Linked DNA regions of Homo sapiens: region 1 is linked to region 2. The links come from fine-mapping of genetic effects on gene expression. Tissue or cell type: stomach. Region 2 holds a variant in brackets; the other region holds the start of a gene. All regions are shown on one strand. Distances are between the middles of the regions.

Region 1 (7,657 bases), 210 kb before region 2:
TCATATGAATGTATGCTGTGCAGAGATGTAAGACTCTCTTCTTTTCTTTTTTTGCTCAAACTTCCTAACAGCAGGATAGTGTGGTAAAGAGAACATGTCTATGGATGTGCAATACTTTGAATAAACAGTTCAGTGCTCTATAAAATAAATATTCACAAATAATGACTTTGGGGAGAGTTATTTCCAAATCCCTTTGAAATATGTTGTTAGCCAAAAGGTTTATAGAGTAATTTAGAATCATAATTCCTGCTTGTCCCTAATATCTGCTGTTCTACATTCAAGTTAATTTTCTCTCAGTCCCAATTAGAGCTGGGAATACATACTCAGCAGAAAGAGACACATTTGTCAGGTTAGAATGTTTTGTTTTTATTCAGGTAGTGATTTGTCATCTGATAACATCTTTATACACCTCAAAGTCCCTCAACCCATTCATTATGGTTTGAATAATGTCTAAAGCACGTACGACTCAAATGCACACTGAATATCCTGTGACTTACAGTAGAGGGGTCTCTGAAAGGACTTGAATTTGGAGCCAGGAAATGTCTCTGAAGTTATGGTTTTTCTCAATGTGAGAGGTAAGATCCTTGGTTGCCTGGAGATACCTTAGTTAGTGCCTTCAGGATCTGAAACAGACACATTATCACACATGGTCCAAAGGTTCAAACCTATCCTTTCATGGCTTAGTGCTTAACACAAGACATTGTCCAAACAACTTGTTTACAGCAATCCTGTCAGGGTCCCTATAGTTTGGTTCCTGCAAGTCTGTATTCTGTCCTTAATGTATAAGAACAATGTACATTTTAAATAAACTGATTAAAAGTCATGAAGTTTCACTACATATATATCATAGGTTAGCTCCAGTATTGGAATAAAGACTTCTCTCAATGTTTGTATGAGAATTTCATGGTAATGAAAGTGTCGTCATGTAGTATCAATCATATTAAATTTTGCTTTAAAATATTGAAGTCACCCCATAATGTTATGAAATATTAAAATCAAATATGTGAGACAAAAAAGGATCTGCTTCATAAATCATGCCAGCTAATTTCTGGTTGGGGAATGTAGGTCTCCAACCAGTGGAATCATGGTGGGGAGGGGTTGTGGTGCTTCACATTTATGAAAGACTGTTGAAAATGACGATGACACTGGTTTTATCTGGGGAGTTTTTATGACCTCACACTCCCAGAATGACGGTGGTTTGCCTCAAGTATGTAGAATTTGCCTGCCTTCCCAACTGAGCTTCTTGGATGCTATGGACGCGTTGAACAGCATCCTTCACAAGCGTTAAAATCCGTGGTGAACCTGTCACTGCCCTCCTACGTAAATATCTGACCACAGAGCTGCTGCTTTGGGAGGTAGCTGTGATCATTTCTGTATCATGAGTCTCTGAGAAGCATAAGTCACCTGCTTCTCATATTCCAGAGTTCAGTAGTTGTCTCTAAATGAGATAGCCATGGCTGGGCGCAAACAAGAGAATACAAATGTCTACGTGAACGGGTCTGTCCTGCCACTCCACTGCGATCCGTTGTTATTTCTGAGAATCATTTTGATTTTTGGACTGCTTATTTCAGTGTGTAGGAGTCTTCCTTGTAGATGAATGCCTTTCACGTACAAGTCTTTCTCTTATTTATTGATTTATTTAAAAATTTTTCCCTACAGAGGGAGAAACAAAACACAAAAATTCCCTTTCCTGCCACAGGGGAAAACAACTGTGGCAAAACAGAGAAGCCCCCGAAGTAAACAGAGTAATAGAGTACCCAGCCTCCCATAGAGCTTGCAGAAATCTCATTGTGCAGACATGGAGCTTCCCAGCTTTTGCCTTGTTAGCCTATTTCTTAACCAGTAATTCTGTTTCTTAATAGGATAAAGGGCCTGACTTACATGAAAGCTCAAAGTCTTAATCACAATGATAAAATACAAAGTCGTGGCAACTGTAATAAGTTTAAAGACATATGTAGCTTTTCAAGGACATCTTGTCTTTAAGGAAAAGTCTTTCATTTAGCTAAAGAAATTAAACTGAATTGTTTAGTCTTTTAAACAAAATGATGAATTTAGTGAAGAAAACAAAACTCTCCATGGCTAATGTAATTTATGCAAAATCATGCAATTAGTGATAGCTGTGCTAGACTTTTTCTTTTCCTTAACCAAATGCGCCTCTAATAAAACCATCGTGAGGAGCAGTGCCATCTAATGTAAGTAGTAAACATGGATAGTAAATGATTAATATCTGGTGAGGCATGCAGATGGCAGGACTTCCATTTTTTCTTTGAGCTCCTTGTGCATGTTTGCTAATCATTCTTGCAAAAAAATTGCAAAGATAAATATGAACTTTCAAAAGTAACATTCAACAGGATATGAATGTAAGAAATAGTACAGTGTGGGGGAATAGTAAAAACCAGCACTTTCCGCCTCTGCATAGTGAAATGACGGTAACTTGCTGTAGCGTAAGCTTAATAAGGGTTATATCATTTTCATGTATGTACTACTCTGGGAATGGCCCGGGTCTTGTGAGTGGTATTTTTTCATCAAGTACCCAGCCAGCGCAGTCACTCTGACAGTCCCCCCACTGAGATAAGGCATGGAAAGGTAACCCTCTAGCAAGTCCTCGTTGAGGGGGGAGCGTTCAAGTGCACAGACGTCTACCCTGTGCTATCCTGAGCTGTAGTCTTCTGAAATGATCGTTTGGCTTCCCAGCCAAGGCAGGGCTCCCCCAAAGTTCATTCCCACTCTTGCAGTTTCACCTCGGGATGCTTCCGCAGAATTTCAGCGCCTAAGCAGACAAGGTCAAAGTAAACCGCTTCACCGCTGCTTCTGGCGCAGGGGCCCAGAGCGCGTGCAGCTCCCCAGCACAGACCAACAGCAGGAGAGGGGTCCGGGCGGGAGCCCTGGGCTGTAGATAAGCAAAACGCACCCATTTTCTCTCCTATTTACTCCAGAGGCACCTCTCCTCCCCCACTCCTGGCATCTCTTTATCACTGGCTCCCTCTCCCTGTGGCATATTTTTGGGTAGTAGAATGCTGAGGTCACAGGGAGCGGCTCTTTATCCAAGCAGTGGGGACATCAGCCTGGAGCCCTGAGCATGAACCAGCAAGATGCAGACTCTCGCTCTTGACTTTGGGCTCCAGGAGCTGCCCCGACCCCGGGCTGCCCGCGGGCTCCCTCCTCCCTCCTGCCCTCGCCCGCCAGCTCGCAGTCTCTTAGGTCTGCAGCGTTGGTTGGTTTCCCACGCCTGTCCCGGTCTGACTCGGGCTGCCAGGCACCGGGAAGCCCCGCGGCGCCGACCCCAACCCGCAGCCCCGGGAAGGTGCCAACCCCAGCGAGTGGAGGAGACGAGCATTTCACGTGGGCATCTGCCTTCACTGCTGCTCGCGCCTCTCCTCAACGGCCGGCGTCAGGGCCCCTCTGTTCCAACTCATCCCCCCCCCGAAGTTAATCAGCCGTACTTGTACTTTCCAGGGCGCTTTAGTTTGGAAAATACTTAAAAGCCTCGAAACCTTCCGGGGAGACGGCCGCCCCCAGATCTCCCAGTTTTGCCTGGCTAGGGCTGTCGGGCGCTCACGAAGCTGTGGCGTCTGTCTGGAACCCACATCGCAGAGGCGCAGCCCCGCTCCTCCCTGACGTCGCCAAAGTTGCCAGACGCCCCTCAGCGACCCGGTCGCGCCAGATGCAGTTGCATAACCTTGCCCCCCACCTGCGACCGCACCGGGTCCGCTCCCGGCTGCACCGGGGTGTCCCGGCCCCGGGAGCCGCCGAGTTTCCGGCCAAGCCGGTTTGGGGCCGAGTGTGTGCGCCCGAATCGGGGTCGGCGCCCGTCCCAGCGGTGCTCTGCCCGCGGCCAAGTACGACGGGCGCGGGGGCGCGGGAGGAGGGCACGCGGGGCTCCGCTTACCTTCCGCTGCTTACAGATAAGTCGAGGTCGATGCAGCGCCTGGCTCGGGCATGTCTCGCTGCGGACCCTGGCAAGCCTGGGGCGGCACGGAGCACTCCGGACAGGGCATCCGCGGCCAGACTCGCCGCGCTCACGCGGAGGAAGCCTCGGCTCCGGGGACTTGGCCCGCTGCGCGCCTGCTGCCCGCCCCCTCCACCGCTGCCGGCCCGGCCCTGCTGGCCCGGCCGGCCCCCGCGCCGCAGCTCGCGTCGCTCGCGTCCCTCCGGCCCCGCTTAGCGACGCGCGCGGGGAGGCAGCGGCTGGGCCAGCTCCGGGGACGCCCGCGCGCTCGCTTGCTCGCGACGCGGCGGAGCCAGCCACAGCCACCCGGCTTCGCGCTCCTCCGATGTCCTCATTTACTGCAATTGTCTTCGGCGAGATCTCAGAGCCAGGGCCAGGAGGCGGGGGCGGGGCAGAGGAGGGAGCAGGAGGGAAGTCCTTTCCGCTGCTCCAGGTCCCAGCTACTCCGCGGAGCCGGGCGGCCAGAGGCGAGGGCGCCCCAAGCCGCGCGCCTGCCGCCTGTGCGCCCGGCTGGCACCGAGGCGGGCGGAGCCCCGGGCCCCGCGGGGCGGAGGTGGGGCGGGGGCGGCGCGGGGCCGGGCCGGGCCGGGCCGCGTGCGTGGGGTGGGGGATAGGGAGGGAGTGGAGGAGCCCCCTCCCGCCGCCGCCAGAGCTGGAGGAGGAGGAGGAAGAGGAGGAGGAGGTGGAAGGAGCTGCCGCCGGCTGCCGCCGGCTGCCGCCTGCGCGCGGGGCTCCGCCACAGCGCGTCCTCCGGGTTTCTGGGCTGCAGGCGGCGCTGCATGGCCCGGGAACTTGTTGAGTCTACCCTGGAGCCGCCTCCGGAGCAGCTGGCGGGCGGGGGACTCCGTGTGTTCTCTCAGGGATGGGGGGTCGCTGGGGACCCTGCTGCATGACTGTCTGCTGTGCCAGCCAGCCTGGCCCGGCGGGGCTTTGGGAAGCCAGGCTTGAAGGGTGCGTGTCTTGTAGGTGCCTGGCCGCTCACCTGCGGATGCTGCCTTGTAGAAGCAGGAGTTCGGGGATCCTTTCAGTGCTGGCTCCAACCTGGTGTCAGCCTCTCTACATGGGGACAGGAGGTCCTATGAGTGGCCTGAGGACTGAAGTGGGAGGGCCTGCCTGGTAATGTTGCATGCTGACATTTAGGGACACTCCAGAGCAGGCGCCACTGCCACTCCTAGCCAGGAACCCTACCCCCCATCCAGAGCACACACCACCCGTCAGCAGAAGCCACAGGGCGCAGAGGCTGAGTTCCTTTGTGGCAGAGTAGAATTCTCTTGGGAGAGGAAAAGACCTAGGATGCACACGGAGCTATCCCCGCCCTTAATTTCCCACCCACCAAAGAGTATTGGGTGTTTTGAGCTCAGAGCAGCAGACCCAGGGGCCCCTCTGATGCCTGTCAGGCCCTGGGGTCTGGGCCAGGGACTAAGCAGCCAGCCGAGTGCAGGGCTCCTGGCCCCCTGGATTTGCTCCTAGAATGTAATGTAAAATGTAAGTAGCCACATTTATTAGTCTGTTTCTCAGGAAAGGTCAGAGAAGTAGTGGACCCCAGGGAAGGGACAGGCTTCGGAGAGGAAATTGGGAGGACAAATGGAAAGTCCCTTCACCCACCCACCTCTCCAGACACATCAGTGGGCAGTGAGACCTCTTTGCCTATACATCCCTGAGTCTCTGCACCTAGCACCAGCTCTGTGCCTGTGACCAAGCCATAGCTCCATCCTTGTTCGCTGAGCTGAACTGAGCCTATCACTGCCTTATAGAGTGTCTGTTTTTTATAAATGACTTTATACGAAATACCTTCTTTGTATGTGGATGCTTTGGGCAGTGTGTCCAGACATTTCAGAAGAAAAAAAAATCTAAAATGTCATCTATTTCCCTCTTTACCCCGCAGCATCCTTTGGTATACAATTTTGCCAGCCTTGGGGATCCAGATATGCCCAGGACGGGAGTCCTGAGCCTGTGGATCCAAACTCTGCCCACCTCACTCTTCTTGTTGTTCTTCTTAACTCAGATCCCCCAAGCTGATTTTCCAGCTTACCAGGGAGGCTGTTGGGAGCTGGCTGGAAAGAGATGCTTAATTTTGTGTGAGCAGTATGGAAACTGCAGTCCCCTCTTCTGCCTGGAAGGGGCCTGGGAAGGGAATGTATAGGAGTTGGGGACGTTTAAAACCAGATAGGAGAAGTTGCCACTCTCCAGCATGTTCCCTTGGGGATGTGCTGTTGCAGCTGTGGGCTCCAGTAATTTTCCCAGTGGTCTGGGGAACTTCTGTAAATCTTACTTTATTGGCAATCCATAAAATTGAAATCTGCCTTCCGTCTTTTAAAGTGACTGTAAATAAAGCTGCCAGGAAACTTGGGCATTGGGCTGGTAGTATCAGAAGGCTGAAGTTTTCCGGGACCAAGAGTGAAAACAGGTCAACATAAATGCATGCCCAGCAAGGCAGTGCTCAGCCACAGGTGGCACTGTGAACTGGCAAGAAAACAGCTCCAAGGACAGTGCTATCTGAGATTCGCATGATGTATAACTCCAGGAAGAAAATGGAAAGCCGTAATTGGCAGGTTAGAAAATCCACTTACATGAAGAGGAGAGTATAACGGAATTCTGTAGCATCATCAGGACTGCTTAGAGTTGTTCAATTGTGTAGTAGACTTACAGTTGTTTTGCTAAGTCTATTAAAATCATTGGCATCGCTTCTTTTTTTTTTTTTTGAAGTAGGAAACCATTTACATATTGTAGTGCTTAAGTGCATGTCTTCAGCATCACAAATCAAAATATTGGTGAAAACTTGCCTCACCTTACCTTTGGCTCTGGAGAGATATTCCACATGGGTGAGGTGTGTGTCATCATGCTCCAGGCTTTAAAGCAAGCATCATGCTGGGGGCTGGCTGGAGAGAAGGGAGTTTCAGCCATCTTCCTGCCCACAGATCCCTCTTGCATTTTTTTTTAATAGATGGGATGTAGGCATATTTTTAGGGTCTAGAATGAGTCAATATGCTCGGCTTCCTCAGGAAAAAAAAAAAGTGAAACTTGATAGATTCATTTTAGGAATCAATTGGTATTGGCTTTTTATATTTTGCTTAAGATTTTTGTTGAAAAAGATAGACTTGCAAAGGAGAAAATAGCTACTTTTCAAGTGGGATTTCCTAAAAGCAGAGGAATAAAAATAAGGGAAAGTTCAAGACGGCTAACTAAGCAAAATATCCACGTCTCTCTTCTTTTGCCTTCTTCTTGGAATTGTGCAGGGGTTGTACAGAGAATTGCTGGAATTCCACCCCTATGGTATAGTGAGTTTGAGGTCTCAATTTCCACATTAAAAAGTCAAGAATATACAAGTCAAACATGTTCAAGAATGTTCATAACAGGTTTATCTATATCTGTTCCAAACGGGAAATAATCCAAATACCAGTCAACAGTAGATAAAGATTTCTTGGTTCTTCGTATAGTGGAATACTAGACAGCAACCCAAAAGCACTAACTGCTGATGCATGCTTTGGCATGGAGGGCTTCTACAAAGGTGCAGAACAAAGGAAGCCAGACGCCCAGTGTTTATGACATGATTCCCTTTAGATGAAGTCCAAGAATGCGACAAAGTTATCAATGGTGGAAAATATCAGAATGGGGATTACCTTTGAGGCATACTCGTTGCCCGGGACCACAGCAACTTCACTGGTGCTGGATCATTCTGTCTCCTGCACTAGTTGCTTATGCAGTTTT
Region 2 (7,657 bases):
GTGAGTCTGAGAAGATATTTACTCATGACTTGTATTTCTTTTAAAAACAATTACTTTTGATATGTATCTAAAGTATCTTCTCTGTCATTTAGGATAAAAACAGATTAGGCTTTTACTCAGGAATGAATTAGAAGCCCTGGCATTCTAGGCAGCTACAGAGTTTGTATCCGCTTGCAGAAAATTTAAAAAAAAATAAGAAGAAGAATCCAGTGTAAGAGACCTACAAGGAAAGGTAATGTTCTCTTTGAAATGGAAATCTGCTCAGAGAGGAAGTGGTCACTGGAGCTTTAAAAAAACGTTAAAAGTAGGGAAGTTCTCCCTTCCTAGAAAATGTGAGCCGGGGCTCTGGCAGAGGACATACGAAAGACTTAGAGCAGCAGACTGAGATATTCCAGGAATGGGAGGCAACTTTAAACCTTCAGCAGGATGGGGGAGACAGACAGATGGGGACTCTGGGAAGGGACCAGGTAGCAGAGCAGGGACCGTAGGCAGGATGTCTTGGGCCACCTCCTACCCTCCCTGGACACTGGTCCCAGCTCTGAAACCTTTGTCTTCTTTGGGCTTACTTTTATTTTGTTATTCAAAGTATTAAAATGCAGCTCTGATTGTAGAATAACTTTTACTCTCATCAAAAAAAAAAAAAAGCAGATGGTTTCTTTACGTCGTGGCTATGACAAGAGTACTTTGGGAGCATTTAAGTAAAACAGTGTTCTTAAGTTTATTGGGTGGCTCTGAAGTGAGTGAGGACTTCAGTGGGGTCATCCTGGAAAGGAAAGGCAAAGGCCAGTGAGCGGGTGGGGGCTCAGTGCCATGGGTGACCCAGGTCTGGGGCTTGGCAGTCTGCCTCCCCTGTGGGAACCTGCAGTTCAAGGCCAGCCTGGACTCTTTTCAAATCCATCCTGGCAGGAGGTGGGGAAGCAGCTTGGAAGTGCTGCTATGTGGCCATCAGGAGCAAGGACTTTCAAAAAGGCCACGCTGGGTCAAGCCCACCGCTTATCTGCTGTGTGTCCTTGGCAAGCTACTTACCAGTCTGATCCCTAGATTCCTTATCTGCAAAATGGGTATAATGCAGATGCCCACCTGACAAGGTGATTGGAGGCCTTAAACCGGAGAGCACAGGTGGCTGGACATAGAGTAAGCTGGGAAAAGCCAAAATCACCTTTGCAAAAAAAATTAACAGTGAGGAAATGATGGCAGTAAAAGAGATCTGATCTAAATCCTCACCCACCTCCCACCCCCAGTCATGCCTCTCCTGTAATCATTCCTGGGCTTTGGCTAAGCCAACTTTGGGAGACCTCTAGTTTAAGGTTTAAATGATAATAGGCCTTCCCTAAAACTCAGCTGCCTTGATAAAGCTAATGAAAGGCCATCAGGCTAGGAAGAGGGGAGAAACCTGAATTCTGCTAAGGTGTAGACTGCTCACAAAATATACAACTTCACTATCGTAGATGAGCCTTTTGAGATCTTTTCAGGTTTTTTGCATGTCTGACACCTGGCTCTACCCAGACCACCAGCCCCACTCCTATGGCCCACCTAGAAGCAACTCAGCTCAAGAGGACAGCTCTGACCCCCTGTGATTTCATCAGCAGCAAGCATCCATTACCTGGCCGCCACCACCCCTTCTCCCAAACTGCCTTTGAAAAGCCCCTCCCCTAGGAACCTTTGGGGAGATTGATTTGAGTAATGACACCGTCTCCCACGTGGCGGTGTTACTGGCCGCAAATCTGTATAGCTCTGCAGCAACCTCAGTTCTCACCTTGTCAGAAGAAGGAATTCGATTGAGGGGCATAACGCAGAAGAAGAGACCGAGGCAAGTTTCAGAGCAGGAGTGAAAGTTTATTAAAAAGTTTTAGAGCAGGAATGAAAAGAAAGTACACTTGGAAGAGGGCCAAGCAGACATCTTGGAGGTCAAGTGCCCCATTTGACCTTGGACTTAGGGTTTGATATGCTGGCCTACTTCCAGCGTCGTGCACCCCTTTTCCGGTGGAATGCCCCTGGAAGGTTACCAGTTAAACTCCGCCATTTTGCCTCTCAATTCACATGCTTGGGCCCACTCACCCAGCTCCTGAGATCTTATCAGGAAGCTGCTGATCACCAGCTTGTGTTTCTAGCTCTTGGGAAACTGCCTTTCCCTGGCACTGTCTGTGACCAATTATTATTTTAGAGAGACAGTGTACACCTGCCTGACCATCATCTGACGGTCACCTGACTTTCCTGGTAGGGTGTCAGGACAGCCCTCTCCTGCCCCGCTCATGCCTGACTAGCTACCTGCTGTAACAGCATGGCTGGCCTTATGTCAATTAAACTCTTTCTTTACTGCAATGCCTTGATCTTTTTTTGTGCAGCAGGCGGGTGGGGGCTCAGTGCCAAGGGTAGTCTAGATTCGCGGCCTAGAAAGCCTGGCCTGTTGGGTGGTTCCAAAGCTGCGTGGTTCCCCTCAGGACTGGCGCTACCGTCTTGTGGGAATGATGGAAGTTGAATGCAGCATATAGGAAGCTTTCCTGATTGTAACTCAGCATCCTGCAGTTCTGTTCACTAAACCTTGTTAAGCAGGCCCTGGATTAAGGTCCAGAGGTTTTACAGGTTGATAAAGCTGAGCCCCTGTCCTCAAGGGCTTATATTCTCTGAGGAGGAATGACAAAGGGTCATGCTAGTTTCAGTACCTTACCAAAAGTTTTGAGGCAGCAGGATCCTGGGTCTTTGTGGGAGCACAGAGGAGGAGAGTGGGCGGCAGCTAGGAAGGCTTCCTGGAAGAGGTGGTTCCTCTTACTTTTCCATGGTTTTCTCCAGTAATCCGCTTTGTTTTTCCCAAGAAAAATAAGGGAAATTCAGGCCAACTATCTATCAAAAAATTATTCCACATGTGTCAAAAGCTTATCAACATTTTAATCACTTATTTGGAAAGTTACTTACCTTACAAAGTTCCCCCTTTTCAAAATGATAACAGGCTTTATATCCATAGCATAGTCACACACATACATCAAACTTTCTGCAAGCTTTAGTTTAGAGTCGAAGTCTGCCCTGTTATTTCTGATCATTGGTGATATTCGACATAGCATTTTTTAGGTGGACAGCTTGGGAAAAGAGCCAAGTCAGGCGCCCAGTTTCTACATAAATGGCACCCCACAGCCTCTCTTCACCCTACGGTTCCTTTTCCCTGGCTCCAAGGCTGCTCCGACAGACGGGCTTCGGGCCACAGCTGGCAGCAGGAGAGCAAAGACAGGAGCAGTGAGGACTGGCTGACAGACTGCTGTTACCATGGCCAGAGGCCTGCGTGATTGACATGCCAGTGATTGACCTCTTTGGCCAGCTGATGCCGCAGGTCACGAGCCAAAAGACATGAGACTCAAGAAAATATTTGTATTTTTTCGGTGTTATTCCCATAATGTTTCATTCAAATGTACTTCTACACTGTTTTATTTTGAATGATTGCATTCCTGTTTGACTCTTTGCACAATTCAGGCCTCGGCTTCTCTTTCTTTTCTTTATTTTAACTCACAGATGTGGGAGGAGGCCATTGCCTTGGGCAAGGAGCTAGCCGAGCAGTATGAGAACGAAATGTTTGATTATGAGCAACTCAGCGAATTGCTGGTGAGTCTTTATTTCTTTTTATTTAAATGAACACAGGCAATCTCAGCTGGTTTTTCAGGAATCTCTCTTTCCATGTCAATGTTAGGGTTCACCCCAGGCACTCTGGGACCTTGGCCATGTCCCTCCGTTTTGCCTAGGAAGATGGTTTTAGTTAATTTGCTGGTTGATATTTGGCCCATAAATATTTACTTTTTAGTCCCAAGTCAGCTCTTATAACCAAACTCTTAAGGCTTCTATGAA[T/C]AAATTGTACGTAAACAACTGCTGACCTTGTGTATAGCGGTCTTGACAGCCCAGGAGTCTGTGAACATTTGTACTAGTTTAAAACTGACCCCAGGCCAGGCGCACTGGCTCACGCCTGTAATCCCAGCACTTTGGGAGGCTAAGGCAGGCGGATCACGAGGTCAGGAGATCAAGACCATCCTGGCTAACACGGTGAAACCCCATCTCTACTAAAAATACAACAAAGTAGCCGGGCGTGGTAGCACACGCCTGTAGTCCTGGCTACTTGGGAGGCTGAGGCTGGAGAATCGCTTGAACCCAGGAGGTGGAAGTTGCAGTGAGCTGAGATCGCGCCAATGCACTCCAGCCTGGGCAACAGAGTGAGAGTCCGTCTCAAAAAACAAAAAAACCTGACCCCTTCTATGAGAGAGGGATGGATAGATAATGACCAGACCTTTCTTCTGCCATGGGAATGCTGTTAGTTTCTAATTGCTACCTCCTCCACCTTGTCATTTTTGTATTCAGCAGATCACCTTAATGATGTGGGAATGTCTGTCATGAATTTAGAACAGAACGATTCTGTTCCTTTAAATTCTCTTTGAACGTATCCCACTATCTGACCTATACCTTTTAAAAAATACTAAGGGCCAGCCATTTCTATGGCACTTCTTTGGTTATTGAAAACACCCATAAGTCACAACTTTTTGCTGAATTTGGGCTAGTTGGTTCAGATTCCCTTGCGGAATGATGGAGAATGAGTGAAAAATAATGTCAAAACGATGGAGTGAGATGAAATTCAGGTGCAAGCCTCAGTACCCTCTCCCACCATCTCCCTCTCCCACCATCTCCCCCTCCCACCCTATAGAAGTTGCCAGAGCTTTTAAAGAGCCCGCAAGAAGAATCCAGAGGCACACATGCTTGAATACTCAAACCTGAAATGCATTTTCTTTTTTCCTTCCAGAAAAAACAGGCTCAGTTTTATGAAAACATCGTCAAAGTGATCAGGCCCAAGCCTGACTATTTTGCTGTTGGCTACTACGGACAAGGGTTCCCCACATTCCTGCGGGTAAAGTTTGGTTCTGCCTAATCTGAGCCATGATTGTTCCCCCAGCAGAAAATCCCCTTCCCGTTCTGAGGAAGGGTGGGGAGTTTGCATCCGCGTGGGATCGTGCAACTCTCTACACTGCCATAGCTCGGTGGTTAGCCCGGGGGGCAGAGAGGGGTTGACAGGATTTTATTTGGTTGCATATAACCTTTCTATCTGATTTTTCCGTAAAAGGACCCTCCTTCAGAGATTTACACGTATTATTTTAATTGAGGTGTGATATATGATATGTGATACTATTTGCCATCTTAGCCATTTTTAGGTGTGTAGTTCGGTGGCATTAATACAGTCACGTTGTTGTGCGGCCAGCACCACCATCTACCTTCAGAACTTTTTCATCTTGCAAAACTGAGATTCTGCATCCATTAAACACGAACTCCCCATTCTCCCTCCTGCCAGCCCCAGCAGCCACCGTTCTACTTTGTGTCTCTATGAATCTGACTGTTGTAGGGACCTTGTATTAGTGGAATTGTACAGTGTTCGCCCTTCTGTGTTTGGCTTGTTTCACTCGGCCGAATGTCTTCCAGTTTCATCCAGGTTGTAGCATGTGTCAGAACTTTATCCTTTTTGAGGCTGAATGGTATTTCATTGCATGGAGAGGCCACATTTTATTTATTCATTGATCCACTGATGAACATTTGGGTTGTCCCCGCCCAATGTGCTGCTATGAAGATGTATGTTTTTAATTATATGGGAAATTGGAAATGGATCTGTATGGCCACGGTGCTAGAAACTCCAAACCAGGCTCCATCCCTGAGACAGGCATGTGCTTTCAGACATGTAATTGAAGCAGTAACCGTGATCACCTGCCAGGTGCCCATTTCCCAGTATTCACATGAGGCCAAAGGAGAAGTTACATAAATATTAATAGTGCTGCCTGGCCTACCATAGAATTGTTTATACATTTTCTCAAGAACACATTCTTTGGATGCCATTGACCAGTGGGTCATGATTTCCTGATATTTCTTATGACTTTTTTTTTTTTTTTTTGGACACTTGGTTTTCTCTTATCCTAGGAGACTATGTGTGATTGCTCTGGCTTTAGGAAGCAGAAGCTCTGTGTCTTGAGCACAGCCGTCTGGGGCAGTTGAAACCAGTTGGGAGATTCCCCTGGTTCCAGACGTTGTTCATTTGGGGTCCTGTGTTTCCGACTCCACGGGAGTCACTAATAGTGTGACATCTCTTCATCACGGCACCCAGAGGATACAGACCTCCCCTTAGGAAGGGCATGTCACTGTTGACAGGGGAGCACCACAGTTCTGGCCTGCTCTAGGAGGTGAGGCTGGCTGCCCACTCAGTGTCCTGCCTGGTGACGGAGGCGTCTGGCCCTGTCCTGGTCACTCCTGGTCACTGCTGGTCAGCTTCTCCTCTTGCCTTCATCGTGCAGCAAAGACAGCGGTTGATCAGAAGCACAGATTCTGAACAAAGTCTTCCCTTCCAAAGAATGAATAAAGGAGGCTTAGTTACAAGCTCTAAATTAGAGACAAATTTGAAATTAGCTTCATTCTCAATAAAAAACAAAGCTGAAGGGTGGAATGAGCTTGGAGTTAAAGCCACTTACTGTTGCTAAAGGCTTTAATTCGAGTGTGTGTGTGCTCCGGAACATACATCTTTAGGAAAGGGAGGCAGGTGGACCCTAAGCCATGCAGCCTTGTGCAGTGCTTGGTGTTAGATGGTGCGTGTGGCCCCTGTGGATGGAGATCTACCTCTGGTATGTAGGCACCAACTCTGGATCCGTGCAGGATGGTTATCCCAGAATCCAGAGCAAGGGAGCAGCCTGCGTGGAATATTATGTGAGGGCAGTGCCGGGTGCGGAGGACACGTTGCAGCTCCCGAGCCAATAGATGCCAGGTTGTGCCAGGAGCTCACACACAGCAGGCTCCAGGGGCGGTGCTGGGTCATCTCCACCACCAAAAGGACAAAATGAAAAGTCTGAATGGAGGTTAACAGGCTCGATTAATATTGAACTGACTTTCCCGCCACACCTGGATCATTCTGTGGGTCTGCAGCAATATATTTATCACACTTCACAGATGAGCTGGCAGGGGTCAATCTGCCAATGACACTGGCAGTTACCAAAACGTGGGCAGAATGTTTGCGTGCTTCATGCCCTGCTGGAGAGGAGCCTCCAAGAACTGACTAGCTGTCCCTTTTGCTTTGTTTTTCTCTAAAAATTGGTCTCACTGTTTTTTGTGCTCATGTTGATATTTATAGACCTTACAAGGAATAAATATCTTTGACTATATGTACATTTCCCCCTTGTTTTCATGTTCAAAAGGATCACTTCAGAATGCAAAGTAACTGACATTTTCAGAAAATGTTATTCGTGTTTTTACCTATAACTCACTAGCTTTTTTCTATTAAAGTCTTTATATACATTTTTATTATTATGTTTTCTCATGTAAAGCATAAGAAAAATGCTTGCTAGTTTGATAGTAGTCTGTTATCCATTAAATCTTACTGAATTTTGGAAGTGCGTGGCTTTATATAGAAGCCTTAGAAGTTGCTCAGACTGTATTTAAGATGACATATTATCTGGTTTCTGCTTGACTTTTTTTTTTCGGGGGGGCGGTGGGGAGAAATAGAGCATTTTTCTTCCATAATGGTACTTCTAAGACATATCTAAGCACAAAGTGAAAAAGAATTCAATTCTTAAACTGGTTCTTTTTTTAGCGATTTAGGAGAACTCAGAATAAGCTGGGGCAAGGGAAGGGGACTGTCTTAGTCCACTGGGGCTGCTGT

Which allele goes with the higher level. Alleles are on the strand shown, and positions count from the first base shown. SD is a standard deviation of normalised expression in the study named.
For the expression in stomach of the gene that starts at base 4,484 in region 1, T is the low allele of the variant in region 2 and C is the other (moderate effect, 0.52 SD a copy in GTEx).

What was found. PIP is the estimated chance that this variant, and not a neighbour inherited with it, causes the effect.
Region 1: INSYN2A starts here. The variant in region 2 is fine-mapped to the expression of INSYN2A in stomach (GTEx, PIP above 0.99). The same link has a PIP of 0.9 or more in ileum.

The regions. Positions count from the first base shown.
Region 1 is chr10:127,192,108-127,199,764 of GRCh38, forward strand. INSYN2A (inhibitory synaptic factor 2A) reads right to left here and starts at 4,484. Exons shown (of 6, transcript NM_001039762.3): 1 at 3,890-4,484; 2 at 498-623. The region is part of intron 27 of DOCK1 (dedicator of cytokinesis 1); the gene reads left to right.
Region 2 is chr10:127,399,554-127,407,210 of GRCh38, forward strand. It overlaps DOCK1 (dedicator of cytokinesis 1), which reads left to right. Exons shown (of 52, transcript NM_001290223.2): 39 at 3,502-3,591; 40 at 4,772-4,876. It overlaps LOC105378551 (a long non-coding RNA gene), which reads right to left and starts at 638. Exons shown (of 3, transcript XR_001747642.3): 1 at 1-638. The variant T/C (reference allele first, on the strand shown) is at 3,832.